Linked DNA regions of Homo sapiens. The protein of the gene in region 1 purifies or fractionates together with the protein of each later gene. This does not show direct contact. Each region holds a gene or a part of one and is shown on either strand. Other genes may lie near its edges.

What was found.
Region 2: the proteins of SYT17 (region 1) and TF purify together in Homo sapiens (affinity purification with mass spectrometry; 3 studies listed by BioGRID and IntAct, with this or other methods). This does not show direct contact.

What each region holds. Positions count from the first base shown.
Region 1 is NC_000016.10:19,217,860-19,228,643, forward strand, and holds part of SYT17 (synaptotagmin-17), read left to right. Parts: intron 1-5,185; coding exon 5,186-5,306; intron 5,307-6,823; coding exon 6,824-6,979; intron 6,980-10,784. UniProt on the Homo sapiens protein: Plays a role in dendrite formation by melanocytes.
Region 2 is NC_000003.12:133,747,503-133,758,286, reverse strand, and holds part of TF (serotransferrin isoform 1 precursor), read right to left. Parts: intron 9,876-10,784; coding exon 9,703-9,875; intron 4,693-9,702; coding exon 4,584-4,692; intron 3,793-4,583; coding exon 3,616-3,792; intron 2,925-3,615; coding exon 2,792-2,924; intron 2,006-2,791; coding exon 1,950-2,005; intron 1,457-1,949; coding exon 1,278-1,456; intron 519-1,277; coding exon 341-518; intron 1-340. UniProt on the Homo sapiens protein: Transferrins are iron binding transport proteins which can bind two Fe(3+) ions in association with the binding of an anion, usually bicarbonate.

The DNA.
Region 1 (10,784 bases):
TCCTAGTGGGTGTGCAGCCCCTGGAATTTTGATTTGTTTTTATATCTTCCTTGCTCTCCACCAATAGATACTGAGTTGCTTGATGTCTGGGATTGCTGCTTAATCACCAGAAACCTTGTGTAAGGGTTAACCATGGGCTGAGTTTGAACCTTGTTCTTTTTGTTTATGATATATGATCTGGAGCAAGTCATGCAGCTCAAGCTCTCTAAGCTTGAATTCTTTCATCTGCAAGATGGAAGCCTCTGGAGTTGTTAAGGAAAAGAAATGCGATTCAGCTTTAGTGCCAGGACAGTGCCAGGACTATGGTGATTTCTCCATAAAGGTTTGCTGTAACAATCATAATCGTGACATCCCCAAGTGCTTGGACCTAGTACCTGTTACATGAGCGTTTATTAAATGAATCAATGAATCCTTTGCTATTGCACAATTAGCCCTCTTTTTTACTTTCTATCAACTGCTCCCCTGACTCCAGACAACAGTTTTACAAATTGATCACTCCCCAGATAAGGCAGACAGAAACAGTGGCCGGATCAATGGGAATGGTTCCCTGGAAAAGTACAACCTGAAATCCCTGTTGTGCATGCTGTGTATGGAGGATGGGATGGGTAGAGAGTACAGCAAGCTTGTATCTGCAAAGGGAAGAAGGAATAAAAGAGCTTTGCTTTCTTAAGATGAAAAACACTCAGTCTTCTTAGAAAAAGGATGACTTCAGGAAGTGCCTTGTTGAAGGTTCGATCAATGGCCCCAGGGGAGGGAAGGAACAATTCTATCCACACTTGAAGGCTGCAGAGGTGGCTTGAGGGGCTCTTAGGTATTGAGGGCCCAGAAGATGGCCTCACCACCTCCTTCCAGTTCTGTGAAGACTGCCAGGATTGGGCAGAGCCCCTGGGATCAACCACTGGGCAGCTTGCCTTGGTTCCTGTAGGCGTCTCTAGAATCCATTCATTCTGCCCACACTGGCCTTCTCTTTGTTCCTTTGAACACACTGACTGAGTGATGCCGGGTTTATTCCTCCCTCCCTCCATCCCAGACCTTGCACATGTTGTTCCCTCTGCCCCATGAGTCCCTATCCCTCTTTCCTCCCTCATTCCTCTTCAAACCTCGCCTCTCAGAGAAACCCTACCCCATCCACCGACTGAAAGGGCAGCTCCCACGCGAACCCCATCCATTCTCTTACACTGCCTAATTTGTCTTGTTTTCCTTTTTCATATTTATTTTATGTTTTTAATGGGAATATTTCCCACATAAAATAATAAAACAAGGCCGGGCGCGGTGGCTCACGCCTGTAATCCCAGCACTTTGGGAGGCCGAGGCGGGTGGATCATGAGGTCAGGAGATCGAGACCATCCTGGCTAACAAGGTGAAACCCCGTCTCTACTAAAAATACAAAAAATTAGCCGGGCGCGGTGGCGGGCGCCTGTAGTCCCAGCTACTGGGGAGGCTGAGGCAGGAGAATGGCGTGAACCCGGGAAGCGGAGCTTGCAGTGAGCCGAGATTGCGCCACTGCAGTCCGCAGTCCGGCCTGGGCGACAGAGCGAGACTCCGTCTCAAAAAAAAAAAAAAAAAAAAAAAAAAAAAAAAAAAAAATAATAATAATAATAATAATAAAACAAACACCCATGTGTCCATCTCCCAGATGTCGTAAGTCGCCAATATTTTGCCACATTTGCTTACTTCAAATCACTCCCTTTCAATCAACTGCATTGAGGCGGAACTTACTGTTTGTTGATTTTTGGCAAATGCACACGTAACTGCTACCACAATCAAGATATAGCATATTGCTATCACCCAAGAAATGTTCTTCCTTTCTCTCACTCTGCTATATTTTTCTTCCTAATACTTAGCATTACCTGAAATCATCTCATTTATGTATTTTTTAAAATCTGTGTGCTATCCATCCCCCCCACAGGAGTGTATGTTCCATAAAGTCAGGGACGGTTCTCACTGGTGTATCCTTAGTCCTGGTACATAGTAAACTGTTTTTTGTTCTGTTTTGTTTTTGTTTTGTTTTGTTTTGTTTTAAAATAAAAGGAAATATCACTGTGACTTATAAACCTGGGAGGAGCAAAGTCCAGGAGGACCTGGATGGCCTGGGCTCCTGAGAATTCTCCGCATTGCTCATACTAGAGTAGATGTGTCAGCAGGGTCATGCCCTAAAGACACCGCATCTTCCAAGCCCTTGAGAAGCAGCAGGAAACCCCTAGCAACAGTGCAAAAGGGGCTGAACTTCTTTTATTACTCAAGACACTCAGTTGACCATTCCTATTTTGAAAATCTCCATACTTGGATACCCAGGGCAGGGCAGCAGGAATGTAAAGGGGCAGAAATGGACAGATGAGGTATGATGTGAAGGGGGCAGGTCCCATCTAAAGGAGCACTGCACTGCTCTGTGGCTAGATGTTGGGTTAAAGAAAATTATTCAATGACATTTCTTTCTTTCTTTCTTTTTTTTTTTTTTTTTGAGATGAAGTCTCGCTCTGGTGCCTGGGCTGCAGTGCAGTGGTGTGATTTCGGCTCACTGCAACCTCCGCCTCCTGGATTCAAGTGATCTGCCTCAGCCTCCCAAGTAGCTGGGATCACAGGTGCACACCACCATGTCTGACTAATTTTTGTATTTTTACTAGAGATGGGGTTTCACCATGTTGGCCAGGTTGGTCTTGAACTCGTGACCTTAGATGATCCACCCACGTTGGCCTCCCAAAGTGCTGGGGTTACAGGCATGAGCCACTGCACCTGGTCCTCAATGACACTTCTTGAAGTATGGCAAGGCAGAATTTATTGAGGACCATCATGATATGTACAGGGACCACAGTAATGGGATTTTTCAGTCACAGAGAGAAACTAGGCTCAGCCTCAAATACAGCATAGACAAATGGGAATCTATAGCCATGGAGCAAAGTCGGGGGTCAGGGATTTTTTAAAAACATTACTAAGAGGAAGCATCAGAGGAGTAAGGGGGACTCTGGCTAAATCAACCTAGCAGGATTTTTGCTGGAGACAGGCCAGGGTGATCAGACATTACCTGAGGGATGACGAAGAATGAAGAACCTGTCTGGGCATGATGGCTCATGCCTGTTATCCCAACAGTTTGGGAGGCTAAGGCAGGAGGATCACTTGAGGCCAGGATTTCAAGACCAGCCTGGGTAACACAGGAAGACCTCAACTCTTAAAAAAAAAAAAATCATCCAGGCATAGTGGCACATGCCGTAATCCCAGCTATTCAGGATGTTAAGGTAGTAGGATCCCTTGAGCCCAGGAATTTGAGGTTGCAGGGAGCTATGATCATGCCATTGTTCCAGACTGAGTGATAGGGTGAGACCTTGTCTCAAAAAAAAAAAAAAAAAAAAAAGAGAGAGAGAGAATGAGGAATCTGACCAAACTGACTTAGCAGCGTTCTTTGCAGAAACTGGATTTTACAAGGTGGTGCACTGATGGGCCTAGGAGGTTTAGGAGCCTGACTAAAGTTTGGTCAAGTAAAGAATCTTTGTCACTTGCCTGGTGGGAATGCCAGCGTTACCAGATCTTCCTGTTTTTCAAGCAAGGCAAGAAACCCACATTTTTTAAAAATGTGGAATAGCCTGATTCTTGAATTGTATAATAATTAACAAGTAATTATAAGTTAAAATGTGATGTGGGGCAAACAAAATACACCTGCAGGCTGTTTGTTAGCAACTTCTGAGTTAACATGCGAGATTGTTTCTTGTTTGTTTGGGGACTAACTCACTCAGTACAGGAATCTTTTGGTTTGACTGTTCACCCTGTCAGTAGATGTTTATTGAGTATCTACTATGTGCTAGGCATTGTTCTAGAGCCGCTGGGTATTGTGCTAGGCATTTGGCATTAATTTGTTGAAATGACTGGCATCAAAAAAGATAGAGATGAAAGATAGATGATAAAGATAGATAATAGACATAGATAAATAGATGACTGACAGATAATAGATGGTTAGATTATAGATAGATGAGACAGTTAGATAGATAGATAGAGATGTTACCCTTTAAAGATACATATTGAAATATTACAAATAATATAATGACTGGGAGTTACTTCAGAGGAATATGGGGAGTTGAATGAAGGTGTAAGTGAGGGGAGATTCACCATGGGATGAGAATTTTTGAAGCTGAATGATGTTTGGGTACGAAGATGGTGGGGTATACTCTTCTGTCTGGTTTTGAATATGACTGGAAATTTCCCACACTAAAATGCTTGTTTTAATGTCCTCATCAGTTAAAGATGCATTCTGAAGGATATGCAGGTACAATGACACCATATCGAGGGCTTAGTTTAAAATATTCAGCTAAAACGTTTCACAAGTCAGAATATAGGTGAAATACCATTTGGCAAAATGTCGATAATTGTTACAATTTTGTGACGGATAGATGGAGATTTGTTATGCTAGTCTATTGTTTTGTATATGGCTGAAATTTTCTACAATACTTTTTTTTTTAAAAGGGGACAGAGAAGTGGGAGGCCTCCTGTTTTCTAGGTACCTTTGGCAGTATGGAGTCATGCACTTAGGTGTTCATGGGAATTTTCCACAGTGTGACAGAGCTGACATCAAGGGGATGGGTACTCTTCAACAAGGGATGTCACTGTGCCGAGTGTTGCTATCGTGAGGTTAGAAGCGTGGGATCTGCTGGGGACTCCAGGTTAAGAACAGATTTCTCACTCAGTTCCTCTGCAGGGCATTCTACCTCCCAGGTATCCTATTGGATGGCAGAATAACAGCAGTCAGAGTATCTGGAACCAAATCAGCCTCCCTGGGTTTAAGTACCAGCTCTACCACTTTCTTGCTGTGGCTTTGGACATGTTATTTAACCCTGTGAGCCTCGGTTTCCTCATCTGTTAAACAGAGTTAATACTAATACCTCACAGACTCATTAGTCATTACATGTAAAGCGCTTAGCGTAGTACATGGCAGTGAAGCATTTTTTAAAAAATTATTGCTGCTTTTGTTGTTATTGTTGTTGCTGTTGAGTGATCTAAGAGCGGAAAAAACTCAGAGATAGATGGACCACAATAATTAGAGGCAGAGATGAAAAGAAGTCACACACAGAGGCTCCCACTGTCAACTGATGCGCTCACAGCAACCTGTTTGTGAGCTGCTGCAATCAATTTCTTGTATGGTGGGTGCAAAAGGAATAAAAGGAGAAGGCAACTTCCTGATCATTTCCTTTCTCTACAGAATGAAGTGGAGCTGGGGGAGCTGCTTCTGTCACTGAATTATCTCCCAAGTGCTGGCAGACTGAATGTTGATGTCATTCGAGCCAAGCAACTTCTTCAGACAGATGTGAGCCAAGGTTCAGGTACCGTGTGATTCCCCTCTTCTCTCACTTTATTAATGGGGCATCTGTGTTTGTGTGGAGAACCCAGTTTTCTTTTTCCGTATCCTGGATGAGCATTACTCATCTCAGGATGAGGCAGGTAAATGATGCCATCTTAGTAACCCTATTGGAATTGGGGAGTTGACTGAGACTGGTTGTGATAACTACTGGAAACTTAAAACCTATTTGAACCCAAGGAAGTGACTTGGCCTTTCCAAATGCTATTCCTGCAATGTAGACGCCATCCTGCAGGTGGCGATAGTGTGCATTGACTATCCATTCTAATCAATGAGCGTGGAGGACACACCCTAAGGTTTTTCGCCAGCTCATTTCATGTGTGCCATAAATTTTTATGAATTCCAACTCTGAAAAGACTTGTATTTAAAGTGTGTATATTATAGCAAAAACCATTCAAACATGACTTTTAATGGAACGGAACAGATTCCATTCCATCTGCATGTTGCTTCTTCCATGACAGCAAAGGATATTACTGTGAAAGCAGCTGTAGTCAGGGATCTGTTCAGCTCAGTGGTGGAATTATTGTCTTCTCTAAGTGCGGTAGCTAAAATAAATTACTTTTGCAATAAGGTGACAGCTAGAAGACACCTTGCATTCTCAAAAGCCACATTATAAAAACAGAGGCTTAGAAAGGGCCAGTGGAGGCAATGGTATTAAGACTGAAGAGTTTCAGACTCACCACGATGGGAGAGTCAGTATGATAAAATCATTAAGGGTTTAGGAGTCAAATGATGTGGCTTACAAATGATGTGGCTTTAGGGAAGTTACTTAACCACTATGTGCCTCAATTTCTCAATCTCAAAAACTGACATAATAACAGTATTCATCTTGATAAGTTGTTTAAACAAATATTAAATTAGATAATGTACATGAATCCCTTTGTAAACTGTAAAATGATCTAAAAATGAATTATAATTCTGCCATCTCTATTCACCTGTATATGGGCTATGGGCTCACTGAAATGATAATGGGTTTCCACAGACAGAAATCCAGGGCAGGCTCTGAGTCTGGTTCTGTGTCCACCAGCAAGATCTTTAAAAACTGATTTCTCACCTTGAGTCCTCAGTTTTCTTATCTGTAAAATGAACACAATGCTGACATATGGGAGGAGCTCAACAAATATTAGATGGCTAAAGGAAGAAGGAAGGGGATAAGCAGATGAATGGGAAAATGGATGGATAATAGATGGATGGATGGTTGAACTGTCAAATAGATGAGAAATTGGATGGATAGAAAATGGATAGATAAAAGTATGGTGAGATGATGAATGGATCAGTGAACTGACGGATGGAAAGATGGATGGATGGATAAACAGGTGGATGAATGGACGGACTATGAGATGAATGAAAAGTTGAATGGGTGGATGGATAGAAGAATGGAGGAATAAAAAGACAGATGGATGGGAGGTTGAATGGCAGAATGACTGGACGGATTAGGTTTCATGATCTCCAACATTCTATGATGCTGTGTCTAATTTTCAGACCCCTTTGTGAAAATCCAGCTGGTGCATGGACTCAAACTTGTGAAAACCAAGAAGACGTCCTTCTTAAGGGGCACAATTGATCCTTTCTACAATGAATCCTTCAGCTTCAAAGTTCCCCAAGAAGAACTGGAAAATGCCAGCCTAGTGTTTACAGGTAGGTAGCATTCCAAAACCCGATGAACTCCAGGTGAGGCACGTCAAACTTACTGTCCTAGAGCCAGAAGGCATCTAGAGAGAGTTACATTTAAGAACGTAATGTCTGGCATTCAACTACCTGGGTTTGAACCCACTTAACATCTATGAACTGGGGCAGGACTCATAGAGCCCTATAATATAATTGTTAGAAATGTGGACTTGAGCCAAATTTCCTCAGACTGCCACATAATAACTGAGGTCTTTGGCAAGTTACTTAACTCCTCTGAGCTTCAGTTTCCTCATCTACAAAATGTGAACAATAATAGTACGTGTGGCATAGGTTTGTTGTGAACAGTAAATGACTTACGACTTTGCAATATACTTGGTACATAATAAGTACTCACTATGTGTTAGTTTTGATGATGATGGTGGTGATGATTCAAGTTCCCTGCAGTCAAATAGAGAGGCATATGAAAAAACAGTGTCACCTAACTCAGAAAAAGGGATTTTTAAAGTCTTCCCAGAGGATGTAGTATTTAAGTAGAGGCTTCATGTGACACTGTCTGGTAGAATTTAGTCCATTTTTCCAGGGTGTAATCTAATGTAGTATTTCCAGGGTATATTAGTTATTTATTGCAGCATAATAAATCACCCCAAAATTTAGTAGCTTGAAACAACAAACATTTATATCTCATAGTCCCTGTGGGTCAGAAATTCAGGTATACAAAGCTTTGCTGTATAGTTCTGTGTGAATACCTCTGACAAGGCTGCAATCAAGGTATTGGCTGAGGCTGCAGCCTCATCTGAAGGCTCAACTGGGGGAGGATCTCTTTTCAAGCTCACTCACAGTTTTCAGCATGATTTAGTTCCCTGCAGGCTGTTGAACTGGGGACCTCAGTTCCTTCCTGGTTGTTGGCCAGTGACCTTCCTCAATTCCTTGCCACATGGGCTTTACCATAGAACAACTCACAACATGACTTTCATCAGAGTGGTCAAGTGAGGGAGCAAGAATGGCAAGGAAGAGTCTTTTTGTAATCTAATACTGGAAATGACATCCTATTACTTTCATTATATTCTATTCACTAGAAGCAATTCACTAGGTCCAGCCCACACTCAAGAGGAAGGGATTACACAAGGGTAGGAAGAGTGGGAGGTGGGAACCACTGGGACTCATCTTAGAAGCTACTCACCACAACAGGGATAGAGTTAGTAGGAGTAATGGTTATTCTTTCTTGTGTTCTAATTACAGTATGTACTTCCCTATATCATTGCTAACATTCACCATAACCCACCCTGTCAAGTTGATATCTTCATCCTCAACTTACAGATCTAGGGACTGAGGCTTAAAACCTAAACAACCTACACAAAGTCTCAAGCTGATAGAATCAGGACTCAAGCTCTGGTCTTGCCAGCTCCACATATCAAGGGATCTATATTTCCTCAAACACCCAGGTAGGGCTAGAACTGGGGATCGACATCATCCTTTGAGACATCCTTCTCCAGGGTAACTGGAAACTCTCCTCTGGTTAGATCTTGTCTAGAACCCTGGGCTCCAGGTCTCCCAAGAAATCAATCCATGGCTGAAAAACCCTTGCATACAAGATTTCCCCTATATAAACTTATTGCTCCTTCTCACCAAGATTGCAAATGTCTATCCTCTGAGACCCCTTCGAAGCAGGTTGGTTCTGGGTTTTCTCAAGGCCTGTCACCCATAGAGTCTGCGTTGAATCAGGGGATGCCTGCCATATGCAGATATAATGATCCCTTCTAATGCAGTCTGTGATGGCTGCTGTCCGGATGGAGTTACAAATAGACAAGGGCCTCACTCTCTCCTAGGTTTCAGGCCAAGACAGAAGACCGTCACCCCTGACTCCTTAAATGGTGGACAGGCAGGTAGTGGGGCCTATTGTATATTAAACCAAGACACAGATAAAAAATGAAGTCTCTTTTCCCAAGTCCCTGCTGAGAATAAGGGACCTCCTATTGTAAGCTTAGATGAGGAGAGGACCCCAGGGGAAACTGAGAGCCCCCATGGAAAGCCCTGACACTTCATATTTTACTTAACATTTTATGATAAATGTAGCACACACGTGTTATAATGAGTGACACCATGAAAAGATGTGTAAGGACAGAGAATCAGAGGAGAACAGGGGTTATGTGCCTGTGCTGGGGAGCTGATGTCTGGGTCCTGGCTTTACCACTCACCTACTTTGGTGACCCTGGGCAAGATCTGCGTGCTTAGGTTTTCTCAGCTGTAAAATGGGGATAACAATACAGGACACTTCACAGGATTGTTATTTGCATTCAGTGAGATCAATAAACACACGGTGCTGAGCACTGTGCCACCCATAGTAAGCACTCTAGAACTGTTAACTGTTATTAAAGGGAAAGTTTAGTGTTTTCCTTTTTTCTCCCACACACATGGGGCAGCCACCACCTTCTCACTCCCTCATGCAGTTTTGTTTATTTCAGAGTGTTTTCTTGCTGTGTAATCCTTCTCCCCGCTTTTTTTTTTTTGAGACAATCTCATTCTGATGCCCAGCTGGAGTGCCATGGCATGATCTCGGCTCACTGCAAGCTCTACCTCCCAGGCTCAAGCAATTCTCGTGCCTCAGCCTCCTCAGTACTTGGGATTATAGGTGCACGCCACCATGCCTGGATAATTTTTTGTATTTTTTGTAGAGACGGGGTTTTACCATGTTGGCCAGGCCAGTCTCAAACTCCTGACCTCAAGCAATCTGCCCACCTCGGCCTCCCAAAGTGCTGGGATTACAGGCATGAGCCACCACGCCTGGCCTAATGTCTTCCTTTAATGCCTTCCCCTTTCCAGTTCCTTCTCCCTGAAGTCATGCCTTTAATGTTCTGCTGTGTAGCATTCCACACTTTTTTCCTTGTTCACACAAACAATATCCACATACAGAGGGTTCTGTTCCTTTAAAACATTATTCATGAATTCAGCAAGTGTGTATTAAACACCTTCTGTGCCAGGCAGTGCTTCCAAGTTCTGGGAATAGAGCAGTGAACAAAACAGACCTAATCCCTGCCCTGGCGGAGCTTACCAGGACATTCCATGGATACCACACTGACACTTGCTTTGGTTTAATTAACAATGAATGTGTTCGTTGCCTTCAGATCAATATGAATACAAATGGATTTAACTTTTCATTTTTAATAACTGCATTAGATACTGTTGCATGATGTAGTATGATAAAAGCTGAGGTTATTTATTCTGGGGGTGGGGGGGTATGACAGAACTTCAGGGATTGTGATTAGAACTCCAGAAAAATACATGGAAGTATGGAAAATTTTGCATATAGTTGCAGAGGTTTTTTCGAATTCCTTGAATTCCATATGGTTACCTCATAAGGCTCAAACTACAAGGGTAGCCACACCACACCCCCTCTCCATACATCTTTTATTCAACCCACGGCACTTCAGGTGGCAACTGTCAGCTGGGGCAGTGGTCAGCTGATGCTGTCAGGGAAGTCCTGTACTCTCCATTCACAGAAGACCCGCTTCTCTCCTGTAAGTTTTGGGGCCCTGACTTGGAAGTTCAGGCTCCTCTGGTTAAAAGCTCGTTGAAAATATTCTTTCTGGAGAAGGAAGCATTGCCTGCCTGCCCCCTTAAATCAGGGATTCTCAACCCTGGCTGTACCTTAGAATTACCTGAGAGCTTTAAAATGCTACCAATGGCTGCACTGCATTCCGCAGAGACTCTAAAGCAACTGGACTAGGCTGAGGCACTGAGCATCTATAAGTAGCTATTTTTTAAAAACACCCCAGATATTTCTATTGCTCATTCATTGTTCCGAACCACAGCTGTG
Region 2 (10,784 bases), on another chromosome or scaffold:
ATGTGCAATATATAGCAATTTTGTTCTATTTCACTTACTCTGTGATAAGCTAATTGCCTTCACAGAGTAGGTAAGGCAGTCCTGATTGATGCAAAGGAAATACTGGAACCAACCCACGTCATTTTAAATGTGGATTTCCTGTAAAGCCCATGGTGACATCAAGGCCATCTCATAATGACTAACGCCATTCAGCATCAGTCTAACACTGGGCTCACAGACAGGTCAGAAAAAGGAGCATCAGGAGAGGCGTGCAGGTCCCTGAAAAGACTCAATCTCTGGCCCCTGTGCTCACCAGGTTTCCCAAGTGCTTGTGGTCACCTGGTTCTTCCCAGGTACTCACATGTGCCTTCCCGTAGATTCCGGATGGCAGTGACATACTCATAGCCCAGGTACATCTTGGCATCCATCCTGGGGGGGACTTTTAAAAACCCGTGGGCAGAGTCCTTAAACAGCAGGTCCTTCCCATGAGGAGAGCTGAATAGTTGGAATTCTTTTGATTTGTCTTTGCCAAAATGTTCCTGTTCATAGAAAAACAGAATAGTGGATGGCAACACAGAAGAAAGGAGGCTGAGAAATGGGACTGAAGAGAAAAGAAATCTCTGCAGGAAACAACATGAAAAAGTTCAAGATGCCAGGAGAGAGGGCAGTCGGACCTGCTCCTGCTCACCCAGCACTTCCTCTGCCTGTAGCCCTCGTGGGTCCGCGATTTGCCTGAACCTGCTTCTGTGCCTGTCTCCCGGAACGGGTTGAGACATCGGTGAGAACAAGAAACGTGGCTAATCCAGAGGCTGCCCTGTGTGGTTACCAGTCAAACTCTCAGTGGACAGATGGGACGGCTCGGCAAGAGGAAGCTGGCTGAGCCCAAATCACACAGCTCTTGGGAAGTAAAGCCGCTGTGCAGGCAGCCCCCTCACAGCCGGGCTGAGGGGCATGGGGAGAGAGACCATTTCCTTCTGGGAGGGTCATGGAAAGCCTCCTTGGGGAGGGGTTTAGCTTTGGGCCTTGAAGTTTAGGTAGAAAGGAATGCAACAGAGCAATACAGAGCCTCTTCAGGTGTCACCAGCCAGAAAGGCAAGGGCGGCAGACGGTAGCACCACAGCAGGCTCCCTGCTGCTCTGTGGGGAGTCCCAGCTTTTAGAGAACTTAGTGACATGTGGCATGGCTCCCACTGTATCCTGAACACACAGACTTCCAGAGTGACAAGATGGCCAGGAGGAAAACCCCCAAATCCAAGCAGGGAGCACTAAGCTGGAGGGGAGGATGGCAGGTGGGGATACCTGGGCCTGGTTGAGAAGCTCCCAGATCAAGTCCTCCTTGCCGCCCATACTTCGGGCCACGACGGTATGAGAAGGGACCTGGGCCAAGTGGCAGTCCTTGTATTCATCTACCGGCTTCCGGGTGTTGTCCAGGCAAAGCAGCTCATACTGGTCCCTGTCAGCCTTGTTTGCCAAGTTCTCTGGGGAGGGAAAGCCCAGGTGAGCTTAACACAGGAGAGCCATGGGCTGTGGTGCCCATCCTTGAAATTCAATTGATCATAGAAAGTATGAGCTGAGAGGTCTGGAGTGAGCACTGAAGGCCAGAGAACATGCGGGAGAATGACTCGCTCAAGAGCCCACAGCCAGGTAAAGGCTTCTGATGCCCATGTAGCAGTGATTGCTCCTCATTCCACCATGAGCCTGATCTTAGCAGCACCAACCCCCAGTCTTTGGTTATGGCAACACTACCCCAGAGGCAGAGGCACCGTGTGGAGAGATTGAATGATGGAAAGAGGCCCAGGAATCCAGATGGGGACCCCGTAGGTACCTAACTCTGCACAGGTGGAAACCCAGGCAATGATAAAGGAGAAATACAGTATGCTCATTTCCAATTACTGAGCATGAAAAAGGGAACACAGAAAAAGAACACCCACTACTTGGAGTGGCCCTGGTGGATTCTTGTCCCATTCTTACCAAATATAGTCGAGTGCTTGACAAAGGCCACATCCCCAGCACCATCCTTCAGACACCTGGGTCAAAGAAACACATCAGCAGGGCTCCTGCAGGGCAGGCCCTTCTCCTGCACCTGGAGAGTCTGATCACACTGTCCAGCACTCACACTAGGATAGAGCCTGGTGCAGCCCCGTAGCTGAAGCAACACCATGGTGTGCAGACCTCCAGCGTAGTGCTGAGATGGGGGAATGAGCTCACACGAGATAAAAAGCCCTCATAACCCAAAGAAGCAAAATGCAACTGAAGATATTTTCATGTGAAAAGAGCTTTTAAACTTCTGGAATAGAAGATAATGGTATAGTGTCTCCTGAGGGTGAAAATGTGCCTTTGGCTGGTTGTAAAACTTTAGGATATAATCAAGGTAAAAAGAGAAAGCAAGAAATCAGCTTCCCAGATAGAGACGGTGATGGGGGCAGGAGACAGGCAGTGTGCTGAGCAGGTAACACTGCTGAGATTGAGGGAAGAGGGCCAGTCCCTGGACAGTGGGCCCAGACACTAGAGGCATGATTGTCCTTTCAGGCTCTGCCCGATCCACCGAGAGGAGACACTGACCAGGCTTGAGGGCTCTGGGGAGAAAGGAAGGGTCCCCAGGAAAAGGACCTACTTGTCAGGGTCAGATGAAAGGGAACATGGGCTGGCTTGGCCTAGGAGTCCCAGGTTGTGCTTCTGACTCACTGGGAGGGGATTAGGCCACCTCGATGCCCCTGTAGGCAGGCAGGGCTCGGCTTTGGACCAGCAAAGAACTCTCACCCTGAGGACATTTGGCACTTTGGCCACCATGGAGCAGCAGACATCTCACTCACTTGAAGGCTCCCGAGTAGCCGAAGTATTGGTTAAGGGTGGAGCAGCCACACCCTGGACACAGTTGACACAGCTGGGGGAAGTCCGTCCCATCCGCACAAGGGGCACAGCTGCCCGAGAAGAAATTGGCCACTGCTGCTCAGCACAGAGAAATGGACAACAGAGCATGAGTGAGGCTGGCCACAGCCAATGGCATCACCCCACCCAGGCCCATCAGGGAACAGAGGGGACTAAAACCAAACCAGCACATGCAGCCCCAGCTTGCCCTTATGCTAACTCATCAAGATCAAGGATTTCTAATAGGAACAAGTTGACCTCTGTCTGGCCACCATCCATCAGAGGAAACAGGCCTATGCTTCCCACTAACCAAGGCCTATCTCGGGTCTTTCTCAGAGCACCTTCTCCCTGCTTTGTCAGAGGCTGGAACAGCTCAGAGAGAGGTCCCCTCTGGGATCCATGCCCCAGACATGAGAACTGCTTAAGAGAGGTGCAGGGCTCCAGAGAAACCTCCAGGAAAGAAATCCAGAGAAGTGGACAAGAGAACCACCATCGCCTAGACTGAAACCCTCTGCCGAGCCTTGCGCCCTTTCCTCACTCATCAGAACAGCCTCTGCTGGGGTTTTGGAAGCTCAGAGCAGAAAAAAGCTCAGCTCCACCTCCCAAGTGCTGCTGGTGCAGCAGACCTGCCAGTTTAAAGTCTGTTAACCTCTTTCCCCCACCTGAGTTCATCCCACATGTCTGCTGATGGTGACTGTCTAGTGCAGCCTGTGTGGGCATCTGGAGCAGAGGCAGCTGCTCGAGGGCACCCAGACTCCTGCCAGCTTACCTTTCTCAAGAGGTTTACGTGGCTCAGGTAAGTCACAGTAAAGTAAGCCTATGGGGATGTTCCACCCAGCGGACCTGCCTAGACCCGTGTGGCAGGACTTCTTGCCTCGAAGCTGGTTCATCTGGAAGCCACTATCCTTCTTCACCACAGCAACAGCATAATAGAAAGTCTGTGGATCTGCAAAGGCACAGTGTGAATGGAAGGCCCTCAGCCTGGTGCAGGGAAACATGGCTCATCACCACCGGACTCTTGAGGAGGGAGGGGAGCGGAGAGGCCATGCTTTTACTGGACTGGGCGATAAGGAGTGGGGAATCAGGAAAACCTTCCTAGGGTTGCAGGGGAGAGAGAAGACCATAGAAGGAATATTTATAATATTACCCCTCCAGGCAAACAGGGGCAAGAAGGCCACACGCACATGTGTCCTGAATGCTTTGCCTCCCCTGGCCCTGCAGCGTGTCTGCCTACACCTACCAACCTCAGCCACCAGGAAACTGGAGCTGTGGTAACAGAGGCCCATCAAAGTATTTCATGTCCCCTGGCACAGGCCCAGAGACAGTCAGGTTGATCTCAGAAGACTTGCAGGGCTGCTGGCCTCTGAGTGTGTGCTCCAGAGTGACCCCTCCTGTGTGAGTGGTACCTATGGCTCCAGAGGCCTCCAGGGACCCTAGACATATCAGTAGACCGCAGTAGCCTTCAGGTCAAGCTGCACACAGCCTGCTGTGTTTCTCTGATAAGCATATGCCCCTGGCCCAGGGCTCAGTTTTAGGAGCACCAGTCCTCAGCCAGCCCAAAGCCCCCAGAGGCCTTGATGTGTGGCTGTGGCAGCTGACAGGGCCCCTCATTCTCTACTCACTCTCCAAAGATGAATGTTCATTATATCTGATATCCAAAACCTGCCTGTAAAACACAGCACTCAGCATATAGAATAAGGATGACAACTCCTTCCTGGGGTCCCAGGGAGAACTTACCCTCTTTTGACCCATAGAACTCTGCCACCACAGGCTTCAGGTTATTGGGAGCCAGGTAAGCATCATACACCAAACCTGCATCCAGTGTCACAGCATCCGCTTCGTTTGCCTGAAAGAGAACAGGCCAGTCCTGGATGAAGCCTTGACTTCCAAGGAAGGCCCACCTCAACCCACACAAGTAGAGAGTGGCTACCAGGACTCCACGGACCCAGGGCCAGAACTTGACTAGACCACGCACAGCCCTGCTGGCTTCAGTTGACTCTGTCTCCCTCGCAAGGGCACTTAGCCACCACATTCCTATTCCTTCTGCATAGAGGGAGTGATGGATTGTGTTTCTCTTTTCCCCGGTGAGGTGCCCAGCTCCTGGCCAAAAATCCTACGTGACTTTACCGTAGGCAATTACGAAGGCTTAACCTGGCAGGCTCCGTGGGAGAAAGCCGCCCTCGCCACCCCAGACTCAGAGCACAGCCAGTGCAATGCAGTCTCTGGAGGGGACTCTGCTGTCAAGGACACAGCTCTCTTGGGCTGGCCACGCTCTTCTTACACCTGTTTTCATTCCTAGCCCATGACCTTTGCTCAGAGCCCTCTTTATTTTGAGACTTCCTTTGAGGTCTTCCTCAGGTGCTTCTGTGGAGATTTTTTTTCTGGGGGAAGATGGGAACCTTGAAAACATTCGTCTTCACTCTGACTCAGTACTCAATGCTCTTCCTTCCTGTCCTGGGTCCATAAAACTGCATGACCCTTTTGCTGAGGGATTGGGCACTTTCTCTGGGTTTAGCTTCTTGGTGATACTATGTACTGAATGATCAAAAGCTTGATTATTATTTCCATTTTTGCTCATCTCTGGTATAATTGTCTACTCCAACACATGGGCAGCTCATCTCTCTTTCTCTCTCAGCTCCATTTTACAAGTGAGAAATATGAGGCACAGAAAGGTTAAGTCACTTCCCTGGGCCACATAGCCAGTAAGTCATGGAGCTGGGATTTCAGTGCAGACATTCCGGGTTTATTTCTTATCATTACACTGTTACTTCAGGTTATGTTCCTTTTTGACTTTGTGCTTCTGTAAGCCCTCATCTTTACATCAACAGGTCCCTTGAAATATTATAGCTGCCTTCTTACTAGATCTATAATTTATTTTCTTTTTATGTAAATCCTTAAAGTGAGCCCAACCATCTTTTATTTAGACACTTAAACACATAGTTTTACTCCTTTTTTGTTTTAAATGTCTTTAATCAAAATGATTTTTCCAGAAGCCCTTGCCAGTTCTCTATGAAGATTTCTTATTGATCAAATTACAAAGCAGGCCAGGTATAGTGGCTCATACCTTGTACTTCCAGCACTTTGGGAAGCCTAGGCAAGTGGATCACCTGAGGTTAGGAGTTCGAGACCAGCCTAGCCAATATGGTGAAACACTGTCTCTACCAAAACAAACAAACAAAAATTAGCTGGGCTTGGTGGCACATGCCTGTAATACCAGCCACTTGGGAAGCTGAGGCAGGAGAATCGCTTGAACCTGGGATGCAGAGGTTGCAGTGAGCCGAGATTGTACCACTGCACTCTAGCCTAGGTGACAGAGCAAGACTCTCAAAAAAAAAAAAAAAAATTACAAAGCAAAAGCTATAGTTCCATGAACTTTGTTGTGTTACAATCAAGTAATAAGACAATAGTATTTCTAAATGAAATAAAATATGTTGTAAGACAAACTATATCAGCAGTCTCGCTCTTGTCCCTCAGGCTTGAGTGCAATGGCTCAATCTCGGCTCACTGTAACCTCTGCCTCCAGGGTTCAAACGATTCTCCTGCCTCTGCCTCCCAAGTAGCTGGGATTAAGGCGCCTGCCATCACACCCGGCTAATTTTTGTATTTTTTTTAGTAGAGATGGGGTTTCACCATGTTGGCCAGGCTGGTCTCAAACTCCTGACCTCAGGTGATCCACCCGCCTCGGCCTCCCAAAGTGCTGGGATTACAGGCGTGAGCCACCGCACCCAGCCAATTTTAACCATTTTCAAGTGTACATTTTAGTGGCATTAAGTACATGCATTCACGTTGTTTTATAGCCATCACATCTATCCATCTCCAGAAACTGAAACTCTTTACACATTAAACAATTACCTCCTATTTCTCCCCCACTCCAGCCCCTGGTAGTCATTATGCTACTTTCTGTTTCTATAAATTTGACTATTCTAGATACTTCATAAAAGTGGAACTTTGGGAGGCCGAGACGGGCGGATCACGAGGTCAGGAGATCGAGACCATACTGGCTAACACGGTGAAACCCCGTCTCTACTAAAAATACAAAAATTAGCCGGGCATGGTGGCGCGCGCCTGTAGTCCCAGCTACACGGGAGGCTGAGGCAGGAGAATGGCGTGAACCCGGGAGGCGGAGCTTGCAGTGAGTCGAGATCGCGCCACTGCACTCCAGCCTGGGCGACAGAGCGAAACTCCGTCTCAAAAAAAAAAAAAAAAAAAAAGTGGAATCTTACAATATTTGTCCTTTTGTATCTAGCTTGCTTCACTTATGTTTTCAAGGTTCATCTCAGTGTAGCATATATCAGAGTTTCATTTATTTTTAAGGCTAAAAATATTTCATCATTTGTGTTTACCACATTTTATTTATCTATTCACTCATCAATGGATATTTGGGTTGTAAAACATATTTTTAATATACCACAATACAAAACAAAATTAACAGACATCATGGGCCTTTCTGTTCCACAACAACTAGACCTTATATATGAAACACACTTCGTGGTTTTGTTTAATCTGCAAACACCTTCCCTTCCCCAGTCCTCACATTGTTGAATAAAAATGAAGCAAACAGGGTGCAGCACACCAACATGGCACATGTGTACATATGTAACAAACCTGCATGTTGTGCACTTGTACCCTAGAACTTAAAGTATAATAAAATATATATATATTTTTTAAAAAATGAAGCAAACAAACGAGAGCTTTGCCCATTGCAGTGGGGTTGGGAGAGTGGTCAGGAACCTGGTCTTTCTTTGCCAAGACACCAAGAAATCACTGGTGCCTCGGGGGCTCAGGGAGCCAAAGAGCTAAGGCCTAAAACACAGCGTCCAGCCCTAGAGCTGCAGGGTTCCCAGGGGAACCTGCGCCAGCTGGGAGGGACAGGATTATAATCAAGCAAGCTCTCACAAGTCAAAATAACCAAACCCAGAAGAGGGAAAGCTACAGAGAGAAGGCTGGAGGGAAGCCAAGGGGAAGCCAGCAGAAAGACACGGAAAACCCCAGCGCGGGGATTGAGGGAAGCCAGGCTGCATCTGGATGTTTCTTCCACCTTTTCCCTTCGGCTAACCTACTGCTTGCTTTGTGCTGAGAACTGTAGAATTTCCCACACTTGACACATCTGTCCAAACCTCTGCACTAAGAGACCTGACCAGACTCTGGCATGGCTCCTAGCAGAACAAATCTGTGTCCCTAGGATGGCCCGGTTCCCCTTAAAGTGCTTGCCTGAGAAAACTCAGTGCTGCCAGGAAAATGTACCTGTTTCTTCTACTCAACACACAACTGATGATAGGCCCCTGACCTCCCTTTCCAAGAGAATTTACTAAAAAGGACTTAAAACTGTGAATATGTATCTCTTGAAACTCACAAGCATCTCTCTCAAGGACTGAGAGCCATTCCTTTGCAACACAATCATCAGGATGGATAGAGTGTCTGTCTCGCAGTCTCTGCGGGAGAATAGAGTCCTAATCGAGAGAACTGCCAGCTATCAGACACAGCTGGCCTCCTCACATTTACACTGACCAGCCCTTTCTACCTTTTTACTTCTCTGACTCTACAGAGCCCTGCGTTCTCCCCTCCCTCATTCTCCCTTTAAAATGCTCACATCACCACTGCACAAATCAGAATGGAGCCTAGCTCTTTCCCCCACTGTCAGCAGTTACTGAATGAAACCTATTGTCACTGCCTAAACTAATATCTGGCTGTGCTTATCTTTGACAGCTCCCATCACCCTGGCCTCCCACTAGCAACTTAAATAAGCCCACTCTGCTCTGCCTCAGGCCCTTTGCATATGCTCTTGTTTGCTGCCTGGTGTATTTTACACTGGAGCCCACCCAGGCTCAGTCCTTCATTACATCTCTCTCAGAGAGATGGTCTCTGACCACCCAGGACAAAGCAGGTTTTTCTGTGAGTCCCTGTCAGAACACTCTCCTTTTTCCCTCCATTGTACATCCCCACATTTTGGAATTAGTAGTTTACTTATTCGTGTGTTTTTCTGCTCTCCTGACTAGCCCATGAGCTCCCTGAGGGTAAGGACCAATGTGTTTAATTCACCACTGCAGCCCCATTGCCCAGCACAGGATCTGACATGTACAGATGGGCAGGGGCAACGTTGAAAGAATGAAGAGCATTTTTGTAGACCTAAGAACAAAAAGATCAGCTGTCACCTGCAATCAGGACACTTTACTCTTCCCCCTGCATGCATCACTCATCTTCCCAGTTGTGTATCAAAAGCTGCCAAAGAAGGTTATATAATAATTTTGATAGTGGGCATTCTTATTTATTTATTTATTTTGAGATGGAGCCTCACTCTGTCACCTAGGCTGGAGTGCAGTGGCAGGATCTTGGCTCACTGCAACCTCTGCCTCCCCGGTTCAAGTGATTCTCCTGCCTCAGCCTCCCAAGTAGCTGGGATTACAGGCATGCACCACCATGCCCAGCTAATTTTTATATTTTTTAGTAGAGATGGGGTTTCGCCATGTTGGCCAGGCTGGTCTCGAACTCCTGACCTCAGGTGATCCACCTGCCTCAGCCTCCCAAAGTGCTAGGATTTCAGGCATGAGCCACCGCGCCCAGCCTGATAGCAGGCATTCTTATATTTTCGCCAAGTTCAGAGAACCTAGGGTCTCAAAACAGTCACCCTTGCGTCTACTGTGTCTGGAAAGCAAAAGTTAATGTGCTTTTTGACTTTTGCTTTCCAGACACATTAAAGAAAACCTCCCCATTTCCACTTTTGAAGTGATTTTAGTAAGTCAAGGTTGACTGCCCCATATATCAGCCTCCTACCTGTGAGTAAAGAATTGTTCCAAAGTGACTGGAAACAGAGAAAGTATGGCTTTCTTCCACTCTCTTTTAGGCAGCAGCGACTTACCGCAATGGCCCTGATGCAATCAAGGTAGGAGGCTTTCTTCACACAAGCAACACTGGGACCATCGGATGGAATGACGCTTTTCATATGGTCGCGGAAACTCTGGCACTTAGTGGCCTCATGCTCCGACACTGCACACCATCTCACAGTTTTATCAGGGACAGCCAGACACAGCCCTGGGGGAGAGAGGCCAGAGGTGGAAGGGCCCACTCCCTATGCTGAGGGAGAGACAGCATCGCCCCTAGAAAGGCCTTGACAGCCACATCCCCTCAGTCCTGTCCTCCTCTCACTCCTGTCCATGAACACTACAGGGCACAAGTTCTACTGCATTCTGAGTCTGAGCCAATAGAAGGTTGCCCTAATGGCCTCCCAGTTTCCTACTGACCACCCTCTGCTGGCCAGAGGGGTGCAGGCATGGCCATCACCTCCCAGCTGGAGATGACAATCTGCTCCTCTGTATCCGCCTTGTCTCCTCCCATCACTGTCCTGGCCCCTGGCCCCCCATGGAACATAAGCCTCAGTATGCACAGGGCGTTTTCAGCTACCCCAACACATTGGCTTGCTACCTCAACTATGGAAAACCAGCGGGGGAGGAATTGCCATCTTTTTGAGAAGAGGGAGTGAGACTCAGAGAATGATGCCTTTTTTTTTTTTTAACCCAAGGTCACCCTGCTTGTCGTTGGCCAAGCCAGGCCTAGAATCTGGGTCTCCAGACTCTGGGTCTGCTACTCAGGGCACAAAAGAAGAAAACATTCTGAGTTACACCCCTTCTTGGCCAGTAGTTGAGGGTAAATTAACGAAAAGAATTAATTTGTCTGTAACTCTTGTCTGTTGCTCTCTGTTTAGGAAGAACTAAAAACTCCACAAATTCAACAGTCTCCCCTCTGTCTCCACTGAACTATCCCTCCATTTTCACCACACTTTTTGGCTGCCATTCACAAAAAAAGCTGAAGCCAGCCATGGGTAACTATTAAAATCCATGTGGTTGCAGAGACAGCATCCCTATCACATGAGCTTTTGCCCTGTCCCCAAGGCCCTCTGTCATCTCCACTCCTTGTGGGCCACCACAGCAAGGCTGACTCACT